7 linked regions of the Homo sapiens genome follow. The protein of the gene in region 1 purifies or fractionates together with the protein of each later gene. This does not show direct contact. Each region holds a gene or a part of one and is shown in the gene's direction. Other genes may lie near its edges.

What was found.
Region 2: the proteins of HECTD1 (region 1) and IGF2BP2 purify together in Homo sapiens (affinity purification with mass spectrometry, with the first as the bait; 2 studies listed by BioGRID). This does not show direct contact.
Region 3: the proteins of HECTD1 (region 1) and DDX6 purify together in Homo sapiens (affinity purification with mass spectrometry, with the first as the bait; 2 studies listed by BioGRID). This does not show direct contact.
Region 4: the proteins of HECTD1 (region 1) and RFC1 purify together in Homo sapiens (affinity purification with mass spectrometry, with the first as the bait; 2 studies listed by BioGRID). This does not show direct contact.
Region 5: the proteins of HECTD1 (region 1) and TACC2 purify together in Homo sapiens (affinity purification with mass spectrometry, with the first as the bait; 2 studies listed by BioGRID). This does not show direct contact.
Region 6: the proteins of HECTD1 (region 1) and FMR1 purify together in Homo sapiens (affinity purification with mass spectrometry, with the first as the bait; 2 studies listed by BioGRID). This does not show direct contact.
Region 7: the proteins of HECTD1 (region 1) and COPA purify together in Homo sapiens (affinity purification with mass spectrometry, with the first as the bait; 3 studies listed by BioGRID). This does not show direct contact.

The regions. Positions count from the first base shown.
Region 1 is NC_000014.9:31,103,294-31,106,793, reverse strand, and holds part of HECTD1 (E3 ubiquitin-protein ligase HECTD1), read left to right. Parts: coding exon 1-148; intron 149-1,125; coding exon 1,126-1,204; intron 1,205-1,317; coding exon 1,318-1,411; intron 1,412-3,500. UniProt on the Homo sapiens protein: E3 ubiquitin-protein ligase which accepts ubiquitin from an E2 ubiquitin-conjugating enzyme in the form of a thioester and then directly transfers the ubiquitin to targeted substrates.
Region 2 is NC_000003.12:185,644,837-185,647,042, reverse strand, and holds part of IGF2BP2 (insulin-like growth factor 2 mRNA-binding protein 2), read left to right. Parts: coding exon 1-18; intron 19-1,419; coding exon 1,420-1,512; 3' UTR 1,513-2,206.
Region 3 is NC_000011.10:118,756,665-118,760,164, reverse strand, and holds part of DDX6 (probable ATP-dependent RNA helicase DDX6), read left to right. Parts: intron 1-120; coding exon 121-243; intron 244-1,262; coding exon 1,263-1,391; intron 1,392-2,877; coding exon 2,878-2,994; intron 2,995-3,500.
Region 4 is NC_000004.12:39,307,363-39,310,862, reverse strand, and holds part of RFC1 (replication factor C subunit 1), read left to right. Parts: intron 1-1,830; coding exon 1,831-2,227; intron 2,228-3,500. UniProt on the Homo sapiens protein: Subunit of the replication factor C (RFC) complex which acts during elongation of primed DNA templates by DNA polymerases delta and epsilon, and is necessary for ATP-dependent loading of proliferating cell nuclear antigen (PCNA) onto primed DNA.
Region 5 is NC_000010.11:121,992,163-121,995,662, forward strand, and holds part of TACC2 (transforming acidic coiled-coil-containing protein 2), read left to right. Parts: intron 1-2,469; exon of another isoform or gene 2,470-2,548; intron 2,549-3,500. UniProt on the Homo sapiens protein: Plays a role in the microtubule-dependent coupling of the nucleus and the centrosome. Involved in the processes that regulate centrosome-mediated interkinetic nuclear migration (INM) of neural progenitors.
Region 6 is NC_000023.11:147,914,919-147,918,418, forward strand, and holds part of FMR1 (fragile X messenger ribonucleoprotein 1), read left to right. Parts: intron 1-3,500.
Region 7 is NC_000001.11:160,333,251-160,336,750, reverse strand, and holds part of COPA (coatomer subunit alpha), read left to right. Parts: intron 1-1,428; coding exon 1,429-1,509; intron 1,510-3,071; coding exon 3,072-3,148; intron 3,149-3,500. UniProt on the Homo sapiens protein: The coatomer is a cytosolic protein complex that binds to dilysine motifs and reversibly associates with Golgi non-clathrin-coated vesicles, which further mediate biosynthetic protein transport from the ER, via the Golgi up to the trans Golgi network.

The DNA.
Region 1 (3,500 bases):
TAAAAGAAATTAAAGACCTTGCTATCAAGAGGCGCCAAATTTTAAGCAACAAAGGTCTTTCTGAAGATGAGAAGAACACAAAATTACAGGAACTAGTGCTGAAGAATCCATCAGGTTCTGGGCCTCCACTTAGCATAGAGGATTTAGGGTAAGCATTATATGTACATTCTTCAATCCAATGCATGAATAAGTTTTAAAGCTTTTGTTTCTTTGTCGTCACTGATTTGCAATATATGAGTAAATAGTCTGTCAAAAACAGTAATATGCTGTAGGAAATATTGATGATCGACTTGAACCTTTGATTTAATATTATAAAGACAACACTCAGAATACTAGAATATTAGTTTATTAATCATCAAACCTTTAGAAGATTACCTGACTTAGCCAATGTGAATTTATATGCCTGTGTAAAATGTCCAGAGCCAACAATATTTTGACAAATTCATCTGCTAATATATGATTCACTTTGCAAAGCTCAAAAATTGGTTGGTATGTCAGCTTTATCACCAAAGGCTGTAGCAGTTGAGATGCTGCAGAACTTTTGATAAAACTCTGTTACTTTATGTACAGGTAATTATCATATCTTCAGCTGTGATTTTAGGTTAACTGCAAGGCCTTTTTTTTTTAATGTTTGCTGATAATGTTGGTAAACTGTGTTTGATAAATGGTTATATATTCAAGGTTTTTTTTAATATATATTTTTGTACACAGCGTGATTGACTTCAGTAAAGCAACAGTTTCTTCCTAAAAGTCTTACAAACATGTTGCTGTCATAATTCATTGCAAAATTTTTAGTTCATTAATTTTGTGCCATAAGTTAGAAGTAAAATATAGAAAGGTGGTTTCATGCAATCTTTGCAAAGCCAGACAGATTTGATAACAGTTGGCCTAGTAGATTTTGTCCATAGAATATTGCATTTAAAAAGTCCTCAACTTACTTCTAAGCTGGTGTACTGATTTTGTTGGAGGAGGAGAGGGGTGGGATTTATGGTTTTGATAGCCATGTTATTTTATTTAATTTTTTCTCTTGTACCCACTGATGGCAGATGATAGTAATGTTATAAAAATTAAACACCATTAGTAGTAGCTGCATGTCAGTTAATTTAATCTTTTTTGTCCTCCCAGTTTAAATTTCCAGTTTTGCCCTTCCTCAAGAATATATGGTTTTACAGCTGTGGATCTCAAGCCAAGTGGTGAAGATGAGGTAAAAAGTTTGCTTTTAATATAGTTGTAAGTTCTGACATATCCTCTTAGCAAGGCCAGTTGTACTAGACACTCCTGAAATATTCCTAGATACTGACAAATTTTCTTTTGCAGATGATAACAATGGATAATGCAGAAGAATATGTGGATTTGATGTTTGACTTTTGTATGCATACGGGTATTCAGAAACAAATGGAAGCCTTTAGAGGTAATTTTAAAGGATTTTTAGCATAATTGCTCTCCTTTCACTTTGAGACAGTTGAAATTATGGTCAAGAATTGCTGGTGGTCGGCTGGGCACGGTGGCTCACACCTGTAATCCCAGCACTTTGGGAGGCTGAGGCGGGAGGATCACCTGAGGTTGGGAGTTCGAGACCAGCCTGACCAACATAGAGAAACCCTGTCTCTACTAAAAATGCAAAATTAGCTGGGCATGGTGGCGCATACCTGTAATCCCAGCTACTGGGGAGACTGAGGCAGGGGAATTGCTTGAACCCGGGAGGTGAGGTTGCGGTGAGCCGAGATCACACCATTGCACTCCAGCCTGGGCGATGAGCAAAACTCCGCTGCACAAAAAAAAAAAAAAAAAAAAGAATTGATGGTGGTCGGGTGTGCGGGTGTGGTGGTGGCTCACACTTGTAATCTCAGCACTTTGGGAGGCTGAAGCAGGAGGATCGCTTGAGCCCAGGAGTTCCAAGACCAGCCTGGGCAACATGGCAAGACCCCATCTCTACAAAACATTTTTTAAAAAATTAGCTAGATGTGGTGGCACGTGCCTGTGGTCCCAGCTACCTGCAAGGCTGAAGTGGGAGAATAGTTTGAGCCTGGGAGGCTGAGGCTGCAGTGAGCCATGTTTGTGCCACTGCACTCCAGCCTGGGCAACAGAGGGAGACCTTGCCTCAACAAAGAAAGAAAGAAAGTGGACATAGGTTGCATACATTCTAGATTACTTGATCAGGATGAATTAACATGAAAGAATCATGATGGGAACAAAGTATATTACAAGGTAAATTACTTTTGAAAATGAGAACACAGTTTTGCCTGACTTGTATGACAGAAAGAGCTGGTGAACTCCAGACTGAGTAGTAATAAGAATTTGCATACTGACCATAGCAACTGAATGTTCTCTCTCTGTTCACGTTTGTGATGTTAAGCAGGGATTTCTAATTTAAAATACAGTTTTAATTTCAAGCTGTCTTAATTTATGCTTGTTTATTCAAACATTTATGAATGTTGAATATTCATCTTCTGTCCATTTCATCGGTAATGGGTATTTTTTTATTGTTGCATAATATATGTACATGTTTATGGGGCATTTTGATACACAGAATGTGTAATGATAAAATCAGTCTTTAGGACATCCATCATCTTGGACATTTATCATTTCTATGTGTTGGGAACATTCAAATTATTCTCTTCTAGCTTCTTTGAAATATATATTATTGTTAACTATAGTCACCCTACTATGCTAGAAAACATTAGAACTTACTCCTTTTATTTAATTGTAAGTTTGTACCCATTAAACTACCTCTCTTCATCCACCCCCACATGCAACATTCCCAGCCTCTGATACCATTCTTTTCTTTACCTTTATGAGATCAACTTTGTTGTTTTTGTTTTTTTGAGACGGAGTTTTTGCTCTTGTTTCCCAGGCTGGAGTGTGATGGCACGAACTCGGCTCACTGCAACCTCCACCTCCTGGGTTCAGGCGATTTTCCTGCTTCAGCCTCCCGAGTAGCTGGGATTATAGGCATGCACCACCACACCCGGCTAATTTTGTATTTTTAATGGAGATGGGGTTTCCCCATGTTGGTCAGGCTGGTCTCGAACTCCCACCCTCAGGTGATCTGCCCACCTCGGCCTCCCAAAGTGCTGAGATTACAGGTGTGAGCCACCTTGTCCGGCCAAGATCAACTTTTTAAGTTCCCACATATGAGTGGGAACATGTGATACTTGTCTTTCTGTGCTTGGCTTTTTTCACTTAATATAATGACCTCCAGTTCCACCCATGTTCCTACAAATGAAAAGATTTCATTCTTTTTTTTTTTTGAGACGGAGTCTCAGGCTGGAGTCCCAGGCTGGAGTGCAGTGGTGCCATCTCGGCTCACTGCAAGCTCCGCCTCCTGGATTCACGCCATTCTCCTGCCTCAGCCTCCCGAGTAGCTGGGACTACAGGCAGCCGCCACCACGCCCGGCTAATTTTTTGTATATTTAGTAGAGACGGGGTTTCACTGTGTTAGCCAGGATGGTCTCAATCTCCTGACCTCATGATCTGCCTGCCTCGGCCTCCCAAAGTGC
Region 2 (2,206 bases), on another chromosome or scaffold:
CACTTCTTTGCTAGCCAGGTACTGTGCTGTGAGGGCCCTGTCTCTCCTGCAAGTCTCTTTTCAATTCTCTGCTAAGCTGCTGGTGGCCTGTCAGGTGGCCACAGGCCCTGAGCATCAATCCACGCCAAGATGGAACCTCTCCCTGGTTCTTCCTGGCTCTTTAGGGATGGCCCCCGGGGCAGGGGACATTGTTTCACACTTCTCTCCACTGTCATCCCCGAGGTATGTATGCTAGGAGCTTGGGGAAGAGTGAAGAGTTAAGCGCTTAAGCAAAGCCATGTGGTTCCAAGCCCCCTGCAGTGTTTAAGGGCATGGCCTCAGCTTCCCTCACCCTCTCTCCTCAGGCCTCAGTCCCAGCCTCCCCACTGGGAGCCAGGCAAGCCCACCCTCTGGATTCCTCCCTGAAAGCCTGAGCACTCCCTGTGAAAGACTACATGCTCACGGCATTTCTCTCTCCTCCTCCTCTTCGGTCTCACCACAACCCACCCTATCAAAATACTGCACCTCCACACAGCCGCTTCTCTTTCATTGGGAAAGGCCAGCACCTGGCCTCTTTCTCTTTGATGCTTTTGTAAATTGAGTTTTGGGGAGAGCGTTCCTGGTCTTTGTCCTAAACCAGTGAAGACAAACAGTGTACTTGGTGTAAGCAGACACTGAAGGTTTGTCTAAGCTGTCAGCCTGCTCTCCCAACACCTGTGCCTGTGCTGAGACCTGATGGTCCAGGAAAGGGCAGCTGCCACACTGTGGATCCCCCGCCACCCACACACGCACCCCCCGCCCAGTGCCCTTTGAAATTCTCACTTGAGTCTTCTGCAGTCAGAGTCCCTGGCCACGCCCCTGTCTGCTGTCTCCCAGCTCAGCTCCTCAGGGCCCTGGGAATGTGTCTGAACAGCCTGTTCCTACAGGAGTTCAGTCTGCAGGGAGCTGCCTGCAGGGACAGTGCTAGGCTGGGTGAGGGGACAGGTGGGGGTTCATGTGTGTGCTCCAGCTGTTCAGGGTAGAGCATCTGGGCTCAGTTCCTCCCTCCCTCCCCTGTCCCTCACACTCATGCCCTCCTAGCCGCTGTAGAACGGGGGCGGGAGCAGCACGGGAGCCCAAGTGTAGCATCTGACTCTGCACGGCCCCCAGTTGCTGGCGCCCTGCTTCTGCTTCCTGGCCTGTCCGTCCAGCAGTGAACTGGAAGCTGCCGGAGTCCCATCCCCTTACCCTGGACCTTGGGGTGGGAGTGGAGGGGGGACCTCTGCCACTTACTTCCAGGCAGAAAAGGGCCTGGAGTAACGTGCGGGGGTGGGTAGATGATGCTTGTCTGAGCATTCCACCCTTCATCCCCAAGCCCCAGAGCCTCCCCTGCCGTTTGTCCTCAGAACTGGGTTCCTTTTTTCCCCTGTCCCTTCCTCTCCCTTCTCTCCCTTGCTGCAGACTGCACAGCGCAAGATCAGGGAAATTGTACAACAGGTGAAGCAGCAGGAGCAGAAATACCCTCAGGGAGTCGCCTCACAGCGCAGCAAGTGAGGCTCCCACAGGCACCAGCAAAACAACGGATGAATGTAGCCCTTCCAACACCTGACAGAATGAGACCAAACGCAGCCAGCCAGATCGGGAGCAAACCAAAGACCATCTGAGGAATGAGAAGTCTGCGGAGGCGGCCAGGGACTCTGCCGAGGCCCTGAGAACCCCAGGGGCCGAGGAGGGGCGGGGAAGGTCAGCCAGGTTTGCCAGAACCACCGAGCCCCGCCTCCCGCCCCCCAGGGCTTCTGCAGGCTTCAGCCATCCACTTCACCATCCACTCGGATCTCTCCTGAACTCCCACGACGCTATCCCTTTTAGTTGAACTAACATAGGTGAACGTGTTCAAAGCCAAGCAAAATGCACACCCTTTTTCTGTGGCAAATCGTCTCTGTACATGTGTGTACATATTAGAAAGGGAAGATGTTAAGATATGTGGCCTGTGGGTTACACAGGGTGCCTGCAGCGGTAATATATTTTAGAAATAATATATCAAATAACTCAACTAACTCCAATTTTTAATCAATTATTAATTTTTTTTTCTTTTTAAAGAGAAAGCAGGCTTTTCTAGACTTTAAAGAATAAAGTCTTTGGGAGGTCTCACGGTGTAGAGAGGAGCTTTGAGGCCACCCGCACAAAATTCACCCAGAGGGAAATCTCGTCGGAAGGACACTCACGGCAGTTCTGGATCACCTGTGTA
Region 3 (3,500 bases), on another chromosome or scaffold:
CCACCAGGAACATTTCATGGATGCTTTTGTTGGATGATGCCTTATTCTTTGACCATGTATTAACCAAGACCTTAGACATTATTTTATTGTTTTTAAAATTGTCTTTTCTTTCTACTGCAGGCAGATAAGTTGCTGTCACAGGATTTTGTGCAGATAATGGAGGATATTATTCTCACGCTACCTAAAAACAGGCAGATTTTACTATATTCCGCTACTTTCCCTCTTAGTGTACAGAAGTTCATGGTGAGTATAAATCTGTACTTGGAATCAGTGCCATCCTGTGACCTTTGAGTATGCTTTTATTTGTAATTACATCTTCATATCTGTGAATATACTTTATGCTAATTATTTCAAGCCTTTGGCTCTTTCTTCAGTTGATCAATTAAAGATTTGTTTTACGTAAATTAACTGACTTTTTAAGAAGGTTGTAATAGTAACTTAATTAAATTCCTCATCTTTCACTTAGTTTTTGGTGTCATGATGACATAGCCATTGGTGCTAGCTGAATTGATTCCGGTATTATTCTATATACAAAACAGAGCTTGAGTATCCTAAACTGAAATCCAAAATACTGCAGAATTTGAAACCTTTTGAGCCACGAACATGATGCTAAAAGGAAATGTTCTTTGGATTTTGAATTTTCAAATTAAGGATGCTCAGTCACTAAGTGTAATGCACATATTCCAAAATTAGAAAAAATTTAAAACCTGAAACACTTCTGTTCCTAAGCATTTTGGGTAAGGAATACTCAACCTGTAGTAACTTAGCTGCATTTTTGAGATCTTATATCTTAATTTATTTCTATCGGGTCGGGCATGGTGGCTCATGCCTGTAATCCCAGCACTTTGGGGGGCCGAGGCGGGCAGATCACAAGGTCAGGAGTTCGAGACCAGCCTGGGCAACATGGTGAAACCCCGTCTCTACTAAAAATACAAAAATTAGTCTGTTATGGCAGTGCATGCCTGCATTCCCAGCTACTCGGGAGGCCGAGGCAGGAGAATCACTTGAACCCGGGAGGTGGAGGTTGCAGGGAGCAGAGATCGTGCCACTACACTCCAGCCTGGGTGACAGAGCAAGATTTTGTCTCAGGGTGGCAGGGGGGAAATTCTGTAATGACAGATCATATATTTTGTTTTGAAGAGAGTTGCGTCCCTTACAGCAAGAGTTTATCGGACAGAAACGTATAGGGTATATTTTGAATTTGAGATGAACTCTGCTTTCATTTAAGACGACGACTCATCTTTTTCCCGCTCCCCCCCCAGAATTCCCATTTGCAGAAACCCTATGAGATTAACCTGATGGAGGAACTAACTCTGAAGGGAGTAACCCAGTACTACGCATATGTAACTGAGCGCCAAAAAGTACACTGCCTCAACACACTTTTCTCCAGGGTAAGAAGTAGGCTTCTGCTGTTGAATATTATCTCTCGAGTCCCAGTAAAACAGATGATTTCATCAATTTTCCCACCGTCTTCACTGTATAAAAGTTCGTAGTGTTTCTGGCTTGGCACGGTGGCTCATGCCTCCCAGCACTTTGGAGGCTGAGGCAGGCAGATCACGAGGTCAGGAGTTTGAGACCAGCCTGGCCAACATGGTGAAACCCCATCTCTACTACAAAATACAAAAAAATTGGGCATGGTGGCGTGTGCCCATAATCCCAGCTACTTGGGAGGCCGAGGCAGGAGAATTGCTTGAACCCAGGAGGCGGAGGCTGCAGTGAGCTGAGATTGCACCATTGCACTCCAGCTCTGGGCGACAGAGCAAGACTCCGTCTTGGGAAGAAAAAAAAAAAGATTAAAAAATAATTCATAGTGTTTCCTAAAAGGCAGGTTTAGTTGTTGACCTAAAGTTGATACTAAATGATTAACCAAGTCACAGATACACTTTTGAATAGTTTCTGAAATACTTTGACCTTAACTAGGGTTAATCCTCATTATTCACATATTCTGTATTTGTGAATTTGCTTAGTCACTAGAATTTATTTGTAACTCCGGAATTAATACTCAAGGTAGTTCAGCAGTCATTTGTGGACGTGTACAGTGTGGCAAAGAGTTTAAGTCACCTGACATGCACATTCCCAGCTGAGGTCGAAGAAAGCAATCTCTGTCCTCTTGTTTAGCTCTCATACTGTGAACAAGGGTCCTTTTCACAGTCTGCCATGTTTTTCAAGTTTTTGTTGCTGATTTCACAGTTTTAATTGGCCCCTACACATGGTGCTGAAGTGCTGCCCAATGCTGGTGGCATTGGTTGTGAGTATATTAAAGAAGGTATTCTTGGCTGGGCACAGTAGCTCATACCTGTAATCCCAGCACTTTGGGAAGCCGAAGTGGGCAGATCACCTGAGGTCAAGAGTTCAAGACCAGCCTGACCAACAGGCTGAAACCCTGTCTCTACTAAAAATACAAAAGTTAGCCAGGCATTGTGGTGGGTGCCTGTAATCCCAGCTACTCAAGAGGCTGAGGCTGGAGAATTGTTTGAACCCAGGAGGCAGCTGTTGCAGTGAGCTGAGATTGCACCATTGCACTCCAGCCTGGACAACAAGAGTGAAACTCCATTTCACAAAAAAAAAATAAAATAAAATATTTTTAAATGGAAACACATAAAACATAACTACTTTGAATCAGATAATCAATTGTATTACTCTTGTTGACAGTTATGTGGCCCTTAAGAAATATACTCTAATACGGTAAATCTTAGATATTATTATCTTCCATCTATTATTTACAATTTTTACAATTTACCATCTCTCTCATATCATGAGATTCTAAGTTTTAGACCATGTTAATGTTTCTTTTTTGCTGGTTCGTGTTTTCAAGATTTGGCAAACCAAATGAAGGTTTTTTTTATTTTTCTCATACTTATTTTTTTCTGTGCTCAGCTTCAGATAAACCAGTCGATCATTTTCTGTAACTCCTCTCAGCGAGTTGAATTGCTAGCCAAGAAGATTTCTCAACTGGGTTATTCTTGCTTCTATATTCATGCTAAAATGAGGCAGGTGAGTATAAAACTAGAACTTGCACAAATTTAATAAGAAATCTCTTTCTTTATTTTGTTTTAATGTTCTTTTAAATGTCCTGAGTTTAAGAATAAACTGTTCCTTAGTAGCCAAAGGACCTTTCATTTTGACCTCCCTCAGGTTCAATTTTCTAGCAATAAAATAGGGATAATAGTACATATTCATAACTTACAAGGTTGTTAGGAAAATTAAGATAAATGTTTAAATGAGTACTTTGGAAGCTGTCAGGCATGATACAAATGTAAAATTTTATTCTTCCCTTCCTTTCCATGTTTAATTCTCTGTTTAATACAGTAAATAGCCACATGTGGCAATTTAAATCAGTTAAAATTAAAATAAAAAGTCAGTTTCTCAATCACAGCCACATTTCAAGTGCTCAGTTAGGCACCTGTTGCTACTGGATAGTGTATTGGAATTGGAAGTACAGACACAAATATTTCCTTTATTATAGAAGTTTTACTGGACAGCACTGCTCTGGATTTTTA
Region 4 (3,500 bases), on another chromosome or scaffold:
GCCATATTCTCACGTTGACTTTATGCAAAGGTTATTGTTTAAGAGTTCCTTAAAGGATATTTTAATAGGTATTAGCATGATAAATTTGTTTTCAATTAGAACTGTATTAGGACTTTTTAAATTGTGCAGACACCTAGCCTGTATTAGCTTTTGCAAAAGGAAAAATGTTGGCTCACATAACTAAACTATGGGCAGGGAGGGTCTGGTCTAGGAACTATTGGATCCACAGACTACAAAGCTGTGAGGACCCCTTCAGTTTCTGTCTCTCTGTTTCTACTAGTTAGCCTCATTCATTCCCACTGTAGACCATCTTTTTTTACACACAGGACACAGGATTGCCAGCATTCCAAGATTTTAATGTCCCCAGCTCTGTCACCCAAATGGCAAGATGGTCCATCCAGGTTATTCCGGTTAGAGAAATCTAGGGAATGATTTCGATTACATAACCATAGCATAGTTATAAAAACCAGGAAATTAACATTGATGCCGTATTGTTAACTAACCTGTACATATTTTTCGAACCTTACATTTTTCCCTGTAGTTCTTCTGTTCCAGGGTCCCACACTGCATTTAGTTGTGTCTTCTTAGTCTTCTCCCGTCGATGACATTTCTTCAGTCTTTCCTTGTCTTCTTACAACCTTGACACTTTTAATGAGTACTGGTCAGTTTTGTGGAATGTCTCTCAGTTTGGATCTGTGATGTTTTCTCATGATTAGGTTGAGGTTATGCCTTTTTTCTAAGAACACCATGGATGTGATCTTGTGTCCTCAGTGCATCCTATCATAGATACAGGATGTCAATAACGTCTTATTATTAGTGAGGATAATCTTGATTATTTGGTTAAGATGATTCAGCATCCCACTGAAACTAGTGCTGGGTTCCTTCACTAGTAAAGTGACTATTTTTTCCTTTGTAATCGATAACTGTCTTGGCAGGAGAAGGAGGTACTTATGCTTATATCCTGTTTGTCCTTAAACATTCATCCACTAATTTTAGCATCCACTGCTAAAGAGGCACTAATTTTTTTAAAAACTGAGATATTACATACTATAAAATCCACCCTTATAAAGTATACAAATCAGTGGTTTTTAGTATATTAACAAGAGTATACAACCATTAGCACTGTGTAATTCCAGAACATTTTCCTCACCCTGAAAAGAAACCCTGTACCTATCAGCAGCCACTCATTCTATCCACCCCGTGGCACTCACTGCTCTGCTCTGTCTCTATGGATTTTCCTATGCTGGACGTTTCACGTGTGTATGGAGACATTAGAATATATGGCCTTTTGTGTCTGGCTTCTTCCACTTAGCATAGTGGTTTCAAGGTTGACCTGGGTTGTAGCATGTATCAGTGCTTCAGTCCTTGTTAGGGGTAAATAATATTTCATTGTGTGGACACATCCTATTTTGTTTCTTTTTCAGTTGATGGACATTTGGATTGTTTCCATCTTTTAGCTATAATGTGGTTATGAACATTTGTGTACAAGTTTTTGTCGAGGCATTAACTTTTAATTAGGAAACTTTGAAACAAAAATCTCAACACTGTACCTTGTTTTTTTCAAACTAAAATTGGAGTACTTATTACTTTTAAAAATCAACGTGTTGTCACTTTTAGAAATTGCATTTGGTGGTTTCTGGTGTGTTTGTTAATTTTTATAGTTTAGAAGGTGGTGATTTCCACAAACAGGAAAGTCTGTTGTGAAAAGACCAGCCCAGGTTGAGTAGCCCACTTGGATATCTCTGATTGCTCTCTGTAGTACGTTTAGCAGGATAGAAATTCTGTATGTTTCATCAGGTTTCTTTTTTCCTCATTTTTCCACTTCTTAAGATGAAGAAAGAGTCCAAACTGGAGAGAACACCCCAAAAAAATGTCCAAGGAAAAAGAAAAATTAGTCCATCTAAAAAGGAATCAGAATCTAAAAAGAGCAGGCCGACTTCCAAAAGGGACAGTTTGGCAAAGACAATAAAAAAGGAAACAGATGTGTTTTGGAAAAGCCTGGATTTCAAGGAGCAGGTGGCTGAGGAGACAAGTGGTGACAGCAAGGCTAGGAATTTGGCTGATGACAGCAGTGAAAACAAAGTGGAAAATTTGCTCTGGGTGGATAAATATAAGCCAACCTCGCTCAAGACCATAATTGGACAGCAAGGTGACCAGAGCTGTGCCAACAAACTCCTACGCTGGCTCCGAAACTGGCAAAAGAGTTCTTCCGAAGATAAAAAACACGGTGATTTTACAACCTCACTCATTTTTGTGTGTGTGTATATCAACATGTGATTGCTCAGTGGCACATATATGAGAAAATCTAACGATTCATTCATCTGTCAGCAAGCATTTATTAAGAGCTTGATCTGAACCCAGGTGCAGTACTAGACCCTGCTGGTGGTGTTGTGAACAAAACAGTCCCTCTCAGGAGCTCACAGGCAGTGGGGGAGGCATATCTGAACCAGCCATTAAAATATATTTGCCAAGTACTGCTAGAGGGGTAAGTCCAGGGTGCTGTGAGGATGAAGATGTGTGGTCAGGGCCAGGGTGTGTGTGCTCCCATCCCAGAGGAAGGGATGGCTAAGCTAAGACTTGGAAACAAAGTAGGAGCTAGCTAGGTGAAGGGAGGGAGAGATGAGTGTTGGGTAGGAAAGAGTATGTGTCCCAAGGTCTGAAGCCATGTGACAGCAAGACCCCTGAGTGGCAAGGGCACTAGGAGGAAAGCTGTGAATAAATAACAGAGGCATGCGTGCAGGGCAGTCAGCCTAAACTCCCAGTAGCAAGCACGATTTGCTGTGGCAGGCCCGATAGGCCTGTGCTTCTGTAGTTTCTGTCCTTGTTTATGATGTATTATTTGTCGTGGAGAGTGAAAAGCTCCAATATGTATTTAATGTCCAAAGTATTTTCTTAACTGAGCTTTGAGATCACAAATGTTTTAGTAGTGTTTTCAACATAGACCAGTGATGACTAGATTGCCAATCATCATTGCCAATGATGCCTGTTTATTTATAAAAATAATATATTGTAATGATACAGGACTAAATTTAAGTTAAATCACTTTTTTCATTCTGAAACTTCATAAAATCTCCCTTAAAAGAGGAGACAGGCATTTCATGTGCCTGGAGAAGACTGTTTTTTTTTTGTTTTGTTTTGTTTTGTTTTGAGACAGAGTCTTGCTCTGTTGCCCAGGCTGGAGTGCAGTGGTGCGATCTTGGCTCACTGCAACCTCTGCTTCCTGGGTTCAGGTGATTCTTCTGTCTCAGCCTCCTGAGCAGCTGAGACTACAGGTGCACACCACCATGCCTGGCTAATTTTTTGTAGTTTTAGTAGAGATGGGATTTCACCATGCTGGCCAGGCTGGTCTTGAACTCCTGACCTTGTGCTCTACCCGCCTTGGCCTCCCCAGGTGCTGAGATTACAGGCGTGAGCCACCGCACCCAGCCAAGAAGACTGTTTTAAAGCTTCGGGTGAACTCTAGTCCCTGTCTTCATGCCCGCTGGCAGTAGGTTGAAAAC
Region 5 (3,500 bases), on another chromosome or scaffold:
AAACTGTTCCCAGATCAATAAACTGGGAACAAAAGTGAGAAGTGGTAGAAAGCTGTGAAGAAGGCCCAGAACAGCCCACCCTGATATGCCAGGCTGTTCTTTTGGAAGAAAGCAGTTTGTACACAAGAGAGGTGATGCTGAGAAAGTGAAAAACCTGAAGGTTTTAAGAGCCGAAAAAGTGCTAATGTGAAAACACGCCACATGGTTTTATGTAGGGGCCCCTTTACTTTAATGCTTTTTCCAACAGGAAAATTTGACTTAAGTTATTTGAGTGCAGAATTACACAAGAACTTCAAGAAAAGTTATAAAATGTAATTGCACAGAACAACTCAGTTCTAGAATAGGGATTTTCCATTTTTGGAGGGCTTTTATGTACATCATCATGATTAAGTCATGCTGGGCCTATGAAGAAGGTGGAGTGTGGGATCATTCTCTTTTTCTGCCTGATGAAATGGAAGTGCTTAGTGCTTGGGCAATTGATCCAAGTCACTGCTAGAAAATAGGTGAATTGGTTGGGCATGGTGGCTTACGCCTGTAATCCTAGCATTTTAGGAGGCCAAGGAGGGTGGATTGCCTGAGCTCAGGAGTTTGAGACCAGCCTGGGCAACACGGCGAAACCCCGTCTCTACTAAAATACAAAAAATTAGCCAGGCGTGGCAGTGGGCACCTGTAGTCCCAGCTACTCCAGAGGCTGAGGCAGGAGAATTGCTAGAACCTGGGAGGCAGAGGTTGCAGTGAGCCAAGATCGTGCCACTGCACTCCAGCCTGGGCAACAGAGTGAGACTGTCTCTAAAAAAAAAAAAAAAGAAAGAAAAAATAGCTGAATCGAGACTTAGCATCCAGCCTTCAGAACCCTCATTCAAAACTCTCTGGGAAGCTAGGCATGGTAGCTCACACCTGTAATCCCAGCACTTTGGGAGGCCAAGGCGGAAGGATCCCTTGAGCCAAGAGTTCAAGAACAGACTGGGCAATGTTGCAAGACCCCTGCCTCAACAACAAACAAACAAAACAAAACTCTCTGGGAGGTCCTTTGGTATTACAGCATTTTAGTTATTATAAAACTCAGTCTTCTTAAGGAAGACAACTCAACTAACTTTTAAATGTGTGAAAAAAAGGAGTTGTAGTCACTTGAATTTGCACTCTGAATACTAGAATAATTTTGAAAATTAAATATTTCCGATGAAAATTAGATTACCTTTTAAATTTTCTCTGAAAAATTATACATTCACATGAGATAAAATCCCTAGACTAGAAAAGAAATATGAGAGGGAAGTCTTCCTCTTTCCCTGCTCCCGAGTCCACCCACTGTCACTAGTTTCTTATGTGAGTTTCCAGAAAGAATTATTTATATATTATAATGTAGCACATTGTATGGTTAGGTTTAGATCATTGCCTTTATAATGTAGTATTTACACATAAATGTATATCCTCCTTTCGGGGCTTTTGTTTGTTTGTTTTTTGTTTTTTGTTTGTTTGTTTTGGAGACAGGTTCTCAATTTGTCACCCAGGCTACAGTGCAGTGGCACCATCACAGCTCACCGCAACCTCAACCGCCCTGGCTCAAGCGATACTCCCACCTCAGTATCCCAAGTATGTGGGACTACAGGCGTGCGCCACCATGCCTGCCTAATTTTTTTGTTGTACTTTTAGTAGACTCTACAAGGTCCCTCTGTGTTGCCCAGGCTGTTCTCAAACTCCTGAGCTCAAGTGATTTGCCCTCTTTGGCCTCCCCAAGTGCTGAGATTATATAGACGTAAGCCACCACACCCAGCCCCTTTCTTTTTTCTTTACATAAACAATAGTATATCATACACACTGTTCTGTATCTTAATATTTTTCACTTGATGTATCTTGGAGAGTTTTCAGTGACGGTATATAAAGAGCTCCTCACCCTTTCTCCAGCCGCTTCGTTTCCCATTGTATGATTGCATCTTTAATTCCCTGGCTACTGATGAAACTGTAGGTGACATGCTGTTTAGAACTCGCCTAACTAACTGCTCATTCTCCCTTTCTAAAGGAGGCATATTGACATGTTTGAAAAGGACTGCTTGATACTGTCAGCTGAGGCTGGTGATGACCTGTCCCTATTTACTAGAAGCACTGCTAATTTTATGCCTTGTTTTTTTCTTCTTTTATGGTTGCTTTGTTTTGAAAAGTGGCTTGTCCCAGCCAAAATATAAGTCAAGTAAATCAAATTGCAGCCCAAGGTAGTTGACACTGGCTTCGGATCCCAAATAAATGTGTAGTGAGAAGCACAGAGAGCTGGAGGCTGGCGGCACCTGCAGGCTCCCTGCTCCTTATTACCCTCTCCCTCTGGGCTGCAGAGCCTTCTGGAAAGCCGCTGCCTGGCCTGGGTCAGATTGCTTACACGCCACTGCCTCCCAGGCCGGCGTTCCCAACCTTAAGCCAATGCACATTTATAGAACAATTCCATGTGATCCTGGGGAAGACAGACTGCGGGTGGAGGGCAGTGCTGAAAAGGAGCCTCTGGAAGAGAGGGCCTTCTCCCGCTTCTCTCCTCCTCCTCTCCACGCTGGGGGGATCCTGGGTGAGTGAGTCTCAGACTGAGGGCTTCTTCCTTTGAGCAACCTGTGGCTTTAAACCGGTTTGACTACTGAGATTAGAGGGATAAAAGCATTGCTTGTTTGCTTTCCTTATAAAGTGAAATTAAAGGCATATCTGTGCCTCTCCACTCCTTGTTTTTTAAGCCAAATGAACTGTACTTTTTCTAATACGTCACTGGTTACTTTTGATAGACTATGGCCCCATTAATCTAGACCTCGATCTCTTCATTTGTGAAATAAGGAGTTGCGCTGGATGATTACTGGAATTTCTTCTGGCCTCTGTTGTGATTCTGCCCATCACAAATTTTAGTTTCAAATGTTTGTGATTCTGCAGAATGATGACTTCAGAGAGAACCCCTAAGGCCCTGAGGGTTTGTAGGACTTTGTGGGAGAAAGTCATTTGAAAGCTCGTATTGTGTTGACCTTGACATGTTTGCACAGGTATTTCTCTAGACTCTCACAAGTGCCTTTCCAGGCCTGTTTCTGATGTTGTGCCTGCCAACTTGAGCCGCCGTGTGATCTTGGCAAACGCTGTGTTTCTGAGTTTGACTTGGTGTCAGTTATAACTGAATCATCAGGTTAAAGCCAAAGTTAGGCAGAATTCTAAGCCTCATGAGAGAATCCTACAGTTCAGTTAAACACAGAAGTGTGTGTGTATGTACTGTTTCATACCCTGTTCCATAAAACAGAAACGCCCCGACCAAAAGCCTTTATCCCACTGACACCACTTATAATCTATTGTGTAATATCTGCGTATGTGTGTATACAGGGGGCAAAACTCCTCCCAGTTCTAGTGGCATGGTGAGTGTATTAGTCTGTTTTGCATTGCTGTAAAGGAACACCTGAGACTGAGTAGTTTATAAAGAAAAGAGATAGTTGGCTCATGGTTCTGAAGGCTGTACAGGCTTGGCACTAGCACCCACTTGGCGTCTGCTG
Region 6 (3,500 bases), on another chromosome or scaffold:
TTTTAAATGTAGAATGCGTATCACTCCAATATGAATGCCCTAATGAATCCTAAGATTTGTAGGTTTTGTGTACTAGTATGAAAATTACTAAAGATGGAAAAATCACATGTTGGAGACATAAGATACAAACCTTTTTGTTTTCTGAAAATACAACCTCTGATTTCTGATTCCTTGTTGTAATATGGTGTAATTATACTAGATTGTAATTTTGTTGTTAGATTATACTTTTTTAAGTTCAGTGTTTGAGGACAGACTTTCATTTGGTTAGTAGTATTATGGCAGCTAGCAGCTAAATATGATAAAGTGTACAATCAAAAGGATATTTTTAATGAAGATATTAGTGGTCTAACATGTCATTTCAGATACATAGCTGAAATGTAGTAAAATCAGTTTTACTACAAATAAACTTGCATAAGGTTTATAAATTTATAAGTTTATAAATCAACTTGGGTAAAGTGTAAATAAACTTGCACTCGTGGTTTCTCTGAAGTCTCCTGAGCTAACTTTGCATAAAGGTGTTATTCTGTACTTCGAGGAAGTGAATTATTGGGGTCAACCACATTTTTTTTCCTTCCTACAGTCTGATTGCCCTTTTTAGTTTTTAGGATCTTTGTGGCTGCATCATTTTTCCCCTTTTGAACTGTGCATTTTCTAACCCCATACTTAAATATTCTCATAACCTCCAAATTATTAATTAGATGCAACATTCAGTGGTATATTACTGGAGTTTCTGATTTCTGCCCACTATAGGAATGTGCTTCCTGAGAAGATTGGGATCGTGATTATAATAATAGTTAACAGGGGATGAGTACTTTCTAGGTGCCAGGCACTGTTCTCTCTGATACTTTATTTGATGTATTGTTGTTATTCCCATTCTTTAAATGATGCACAGAGAGGTTAGGTAAGTGACTTACTACCAAGTGTCAGGGCCATTAAGGGTCAGGATTCTGAATTCCTGAAATGATGAAATTTAGCTTGAAGAAATTGGTTTGATTTCCTGCTTAGTTTTCAATTTCATGGTGGTCTTTGATTGTATTTTGTGCTATAACACTGCCTTAGCATCCTATAACTATAGTTACAGTGTTATATTACCATTTTTTATTGTTAATACAAAGCCATCATGAAATAATTCAGTTTATGTGCCAGCTTTTTTTGTTACTAATTCTTGAACCTTGGCGCTGTACTTCTTCATGTGGATGCCTGTTAAGGAAAGATAAAGTTAGAAATCTTTGACCCTGCTAGGAAATTTGTCTTTGTTATATTGGGAGCTCATAAAACTGAAGTATTCAAAAGTTAGAATACATACACACAAGAAAAATTAGTAACTAATTTAATAATGTTTTCTTTGCACATGTCTCTGTTGTCTTTTGGTCAGAGTGAAGCTAAATGTGTTTTTCACATAATTTGTAGCCTATATGAAGTCCTGGACATGTGGTATGGTTGGAAGGACTGTTGATGAGGTTTATTGTCTCTCTTTATTCTTTTATGTTGTTAGTGTCCCCATACAACGGGGCGGGGGGAGTGGGGACAAAATGATAACTTGCTTTATATATGAAGCCTTGGGTTTGAATCATACTGTTATCACATTTCCTATGTCCCTATCCTGTCTCCTGCAGGTTTTCTTTCTTGGTTTTCTTTTTTGGTTTTCTTTCTTCCTTTCTTCCTTTCTTTTCCTTTCTTTCCTTTCTTCCTTTTTTCTTTCCTTTTCTTTTTTCCTTTCTTTCCTTCATTTCTCTCCTTTGCTCCTTTAGTTTGTTTCTTTGTTTCTTTGGTTTGTTTCTTTGTTTCTTTGGTTTGTTTCTTTGTTTCTTTAGTTTGTTTCTTTGTTTCTTTGTTTCTTTCAACAGGTCTCACTGTCGCCCAGGTTGGAGTGCAGTGGTGGGATCTCAGCTCACTGCAACCTCCACCTCTCGGGTTCAAGCCAGTCTCATGCTTCAGCCTTCCGGGTAGCTGAGATTACAGGCATGTGCCACCATTCCTGGCTATTTTTTGCATTTTTAGTAGAGATGAGGTTTCGCCATGTTGGCCAGGCTGATCTCAAGTTATCTGCCTGCCTCAGCCCTCCAAAGTGCTGGAATTACAGGCATGAGACACCGGGTCCAGCTTCCAGCAGGTTTTCTTTAGGAGGGATATTTTACAATGCTGTAAGTTTTTCCTAACGAGAATTATCATAGCACTACATGTTCTGTCTTCAGTAAGTGATACAAGCTTACTGATGATGTTGTAGTTATGTTCATTGGTGGTCGGGTGTACATTGAAACTTTAACACATAATAGCCTCTCCTGTGAGCAGTGGTTCCTGTTGGTAAGATACTTTACTAAGGGAAGGAATGTGAGGTGTCGCTGGGGAGAGTTTACCCAAATAAGGATGGACTTTCTGTCTTTGTTTCATCAGTCCTGGTAATAGAATGTTTGAATAGATAGCTCTAGGCATTACATACTTTCATAAATATGATTATTGTAATTACCTCTTTGGCCCAGTTGCTAGTAAATTAGGGACCCCTTAATGATTTATTTCCTGTTTATTCACCCTGATGAAGAACTTGTATCTCTTTTAAACTGTACTTTATCGCCTTTCTCAAATTCCAAGATTCTCATCACATTTTTTTTCTTCCCAAACTCTAAATAACCTTTTAATATTAAGTATCTTTGTGGAAACATTGTTTTCTTTTTCTATCCCAATTTTTAAAGCTTTTTTAAAAAAAAGAGTGCTTTTGTTGGGATGTACATTTTCCAAATGCAAAAACATTTATGATTCTGTGTCTCTTATAAAATATGACACTCTCTACTTTTCTCTCATTTATTTAGTGCCACCTATGTGTGTAATTTCATTACCCACAGCAGTCTTAGGAGGCTGGTCGAGTTCCTTATTTGCAGATGAGGAATCTGAGGTCCAGAGATCACTTCTTGGTGAGAGTCTCACAGCTATTAAGTATTAGAGCCAAGATTTTGAACGTAGGTCTGATTCACAGCAAAACCGTTAACCACTAAGTACACTGACTCCAGTAAGAGCCCTAGTCCTCACCCAATACACTTTAATTCCCCTGTGCATTCATTCAAATTCATTGAATTTGCTGCCTTTGGAAACCTCTCAGGAACCTCCTCAACCTCTCTTCTCTACAGACATCAGCTTTGCCTGATAGGTAGGGATCATAGCAAAACACAGTTTTCCAAGGTGGTGATAGGTGGAGTGATAGTGCTCTGGAGATGGCCAAAGAAGGAAGGTATGAGTGTATCTGTGGGTGGGTGAGTGGTGGATAAGGGGAAGGACAGAGCCAAAAGCGACGGCTATTGGAAAAACTATGATGAGAAACAGGAAGATGGAACCTTGTTGGAATTAGTGAAAGACCTTAGAATTCACAGGAGGTATTTGTCCTTCACGCGAGTGTAGACCAAACGTAACCTATGAGTTTCTTTTATTCCACTTATTAAAGCAGCAACCAAAGGTATTATATACCTTCTGTATTCACTTAAAATGACTGATTTTGAAAAAGTCATGCA
Region 7 (3,500 bases), on another chromosome or scaffold:
TTGATTATAAACAAATATTAAAAAGAAATTTAAAAAAATTAAATAAGAAGAAAAATGCATCTGGTCTCTTATTTTTGTACATTTTAGGGGATTTTCTGAATGAGGAAGATAAGCTATTTTATATTTATGATCCTGGTTTTCATGTCTTCAGTTGTGTTCATTGATGCCTAGTACTTTGGTAGTTGACTCAACTTCACATCTGAATATGATATTGTTTCTCTGCTTAGCTCAGGCTTACTGAGCAATGTAGTATTTTCCATGTAATAAGTTAAGGTCTGTTTGCTTGACAGGTGAGTACAGACCACACATGTATGGGCGTTGTTTGCCATCAAGTTAGGAGCCTAAGAAGCTGATGCCCTATATTATTGTTTCCCTTGGAGTCATGGTATCTATCTGTCCTACTTTTTTTTTTTTTTTTGAGACCGAGCCTCTCTCTGTCGCCCAGGCTGGAGTGCAGTGGAGCGATCTCAACTCACTGCAAACGCCGCCTCCCAGGTTCAAGTGATCCTGCTGCCGCAGCCTCCCAAGTAGCTGGGATCACATCCGGCTAATTTTTTTTTGTATTTTTGTAGAGACAGGGTTTCCCCATGTTGGCCAGGCCGGTCCCAAACTCCTGACCTCAGGTGATCCCCCTGCCTTGACCTCCCAAAGTGCTGGGATTACAGGTATGAGCCATCGTGCCCAGCCTGTCATACTTTTTAAAAGTGATGGGTAAAGCACTTAAGGGGTCTATATTCAAGCCAAGAGCACAATTTTGCAGTAGAAAAAAGAGTTGCAAATCAAGCCCTGGATAAATATCTCCTGCTATTAAATGCAGATGGCTTCTTCCCAAAGAAAGAAAAACTTTTTTTTTTTTTTTTTTTTTTTGAGACTGAGTCTCGCTCTGTTACCCAGGCTGGAGTACAATGGCATGATTTCGGCTCACTGCAACCTCTTGTATCCTGAGTTCAAGCGATTCTCCTGCCTCAGCCTCCCGAGTAGCTGGGACTACAGGCACATGCCACCACGCCTGGCTAATTTTTTGTATTTTTAGTAGAGACAGGGTTTCACTATGTTAGCCAGGATGGTCTCGATCTCCTGACCTTGTGATCCACCCGCCTCGACCTCCCAAAGTGCTGGGATTACAGGCATGAGTGACCACGCCCAGCCTGAAAAACTTCAATAATTTTATCTTTAGCTTTTCCCTAATCCTACCCCAACCCCATGTTGTTTATCTGACCTATATTTTCATTCTTGTTCTTTTCCCCTCAAATCTTAAACAAGGCTTTCTACCAAGGTTCCTACCTATTTAGAAATGCCAAAATACAAATAATGTATATAAATCTATATTTATATACATATTTCTATCTCTGTAAAGATATCAATTTCTCTGAGCCTTTTAGAGGCTCAATAACTATTTCTGTTTCTTAGTTTGATTTGTCTTTGCAGGTTTGGAATTACAAGCTTCGGCGCTGTCTTTTCACATTGCTTGGGCACTTAGATTATATTCGCACCACGTTTTTTCATCATGTAAGTAGTCATGGTGGCGCTAGTTTTGGAGCATTCTTAGTTTCCCCATAGTAATCTTTATTTGATCCTTGAGAACCCATGTTTTAATAATAGAGTTGTTTTTGGAGTGGCTCTTCTACAATCTGTGTGGTATTGTCCTTTCTGCTTTTTTTCTTTCTGCAAAAGGAAGCACTTGGGATTATACTGAATTTAATTTTATTGGATTCAGTGGATTCTATGGGAAGTCATTGTTTCTCTGTAGGGAAAAGTAGGGATTTGATTTCAGATTTGCTGAACCAAAAAACAAAAGTTTGCCAGCTAATCCCATGTAGGGTATTATTAGTAAGTAGTAGGTGTGTCTGGAAGAAGGTCAGACTAAGATGCCATTTTGATCAGCTAACAAACGTTTCGAAGTATTAACAATCATACCCCTCTATCCTAGGATTTTTGGGTCTGGTGGAGGCTGTTCCCTTAGCCAGGCTTACTACTTTCTTTGATCTGCCAGGTAACATAGTAGATTTAGATAGTGAGGTGCAGATTACAGACTCCCAACCTCTGAATCCAGTTGCACCCTGACAGGATCTCCTTATAGTTCTGTGTATTAGCATTAACTTACACTATTCTTTGATTGCCAGTAAATTAAGTCTCTTTAATTAAGTTAGAAAGAATATGATGAAATAAACAATTTACTGGTTGAGTATATATTATTTCTTTTTTTAATTAAAAAATTCTAGGATAGGAGAGAATGAGAAAATTACAGCTTAAACATTTGAGAATGATAACCACTCAATAAGATAACTTATTAAGTAGGAATTATTTGTCATTGCCATAAAGGACTTCCTGAAGACCCTTGCCTAGAACAAGTTGCCATCTACCTGGAAAGTTACGAAAGACCTTATTTTCTTTCATTTTACCAGCTCACTAAATATGTGTGTGCCTTATACTTGCTAAGCTTTGTGCTAAATACTGAAGGTAGAGATACTATCTCTATTGAAAATAGAAATACCATCTATTTTCAGTGTTTAACACAAAGCTTAGCAAGTGTAGTAAGAAGGAAGTGTAAATAAGAAATACTTCCTTTTCTCAACAATCTTATAGACTCCAAAAAGGCTAAATTGTCTTTACATGTTACTTTCTGCTTTGCTTGCTGAGACCTGGGAATTTTTTGAAACTGGACAGAAAGAAGTCAGACAATAAAATAATATTCCCATCCTAGAGTTAAAGGTAGAAGAGTCTTTCACAGGATCTTAATTTACATGATTAACTGTATATAAATACACACACACACACACACACATATAGAAGTAAATGTAAATGTATGTTTCACTATCTGCCTCTGAGAATGTATTGTGCCTCTAACTGGCTTCCATTCTTAAGTCTTATAGGTGAAAGTGCCGAAGTTGAGAAAAGCTGTTAGAGTGGTAGAGAAAAGGAGACAGCTAACCTGATAGCAAAAGCAGCAGCCCCTTTGCTAATGTAGCTGAGCCGTTAAGCAATGCAGTTCTTTAGAGAAAAATGATTACAAGAACCTGATAGAACAGATTTGTTTAATGTTTAAAGCCTTTGTCTGGAATATCTTTCAGGAATATCCCTGGATTCTGAGTGCCTCCGATGATCAGACCATCCGAGTGTGGAACTGGCAATCTAGAACCTGTGTTTGGTAAAGCAGGAGGCAGAGGGCTCGAAAAGAGTCTTCATTTTTCCTAGTTTTTCATAATGAGCTTCTCTTAGAACAATCTTCTCCCTTCTCAAATGGACTATGTCGGCTGATTAATTACTGATTGTATTTGTAGGATGCTTTTAAGTGCAAAATAATAAATGTAGAGGCAATCCCATATATGAATCTGGACTTCCAATAATTTCTTACCAGGAAGAGAAGTCATATAGCCTTTTAGAACAAGAACTTTTAGCTGGTTTTCAATTATTTTCCCATAAAACCTGAGTCAAGGTCTAGACCTTTGTCTTATTTTGTGTTTGGAGCTGGAGCTTTACATAGAACTTTCCATGAAGAG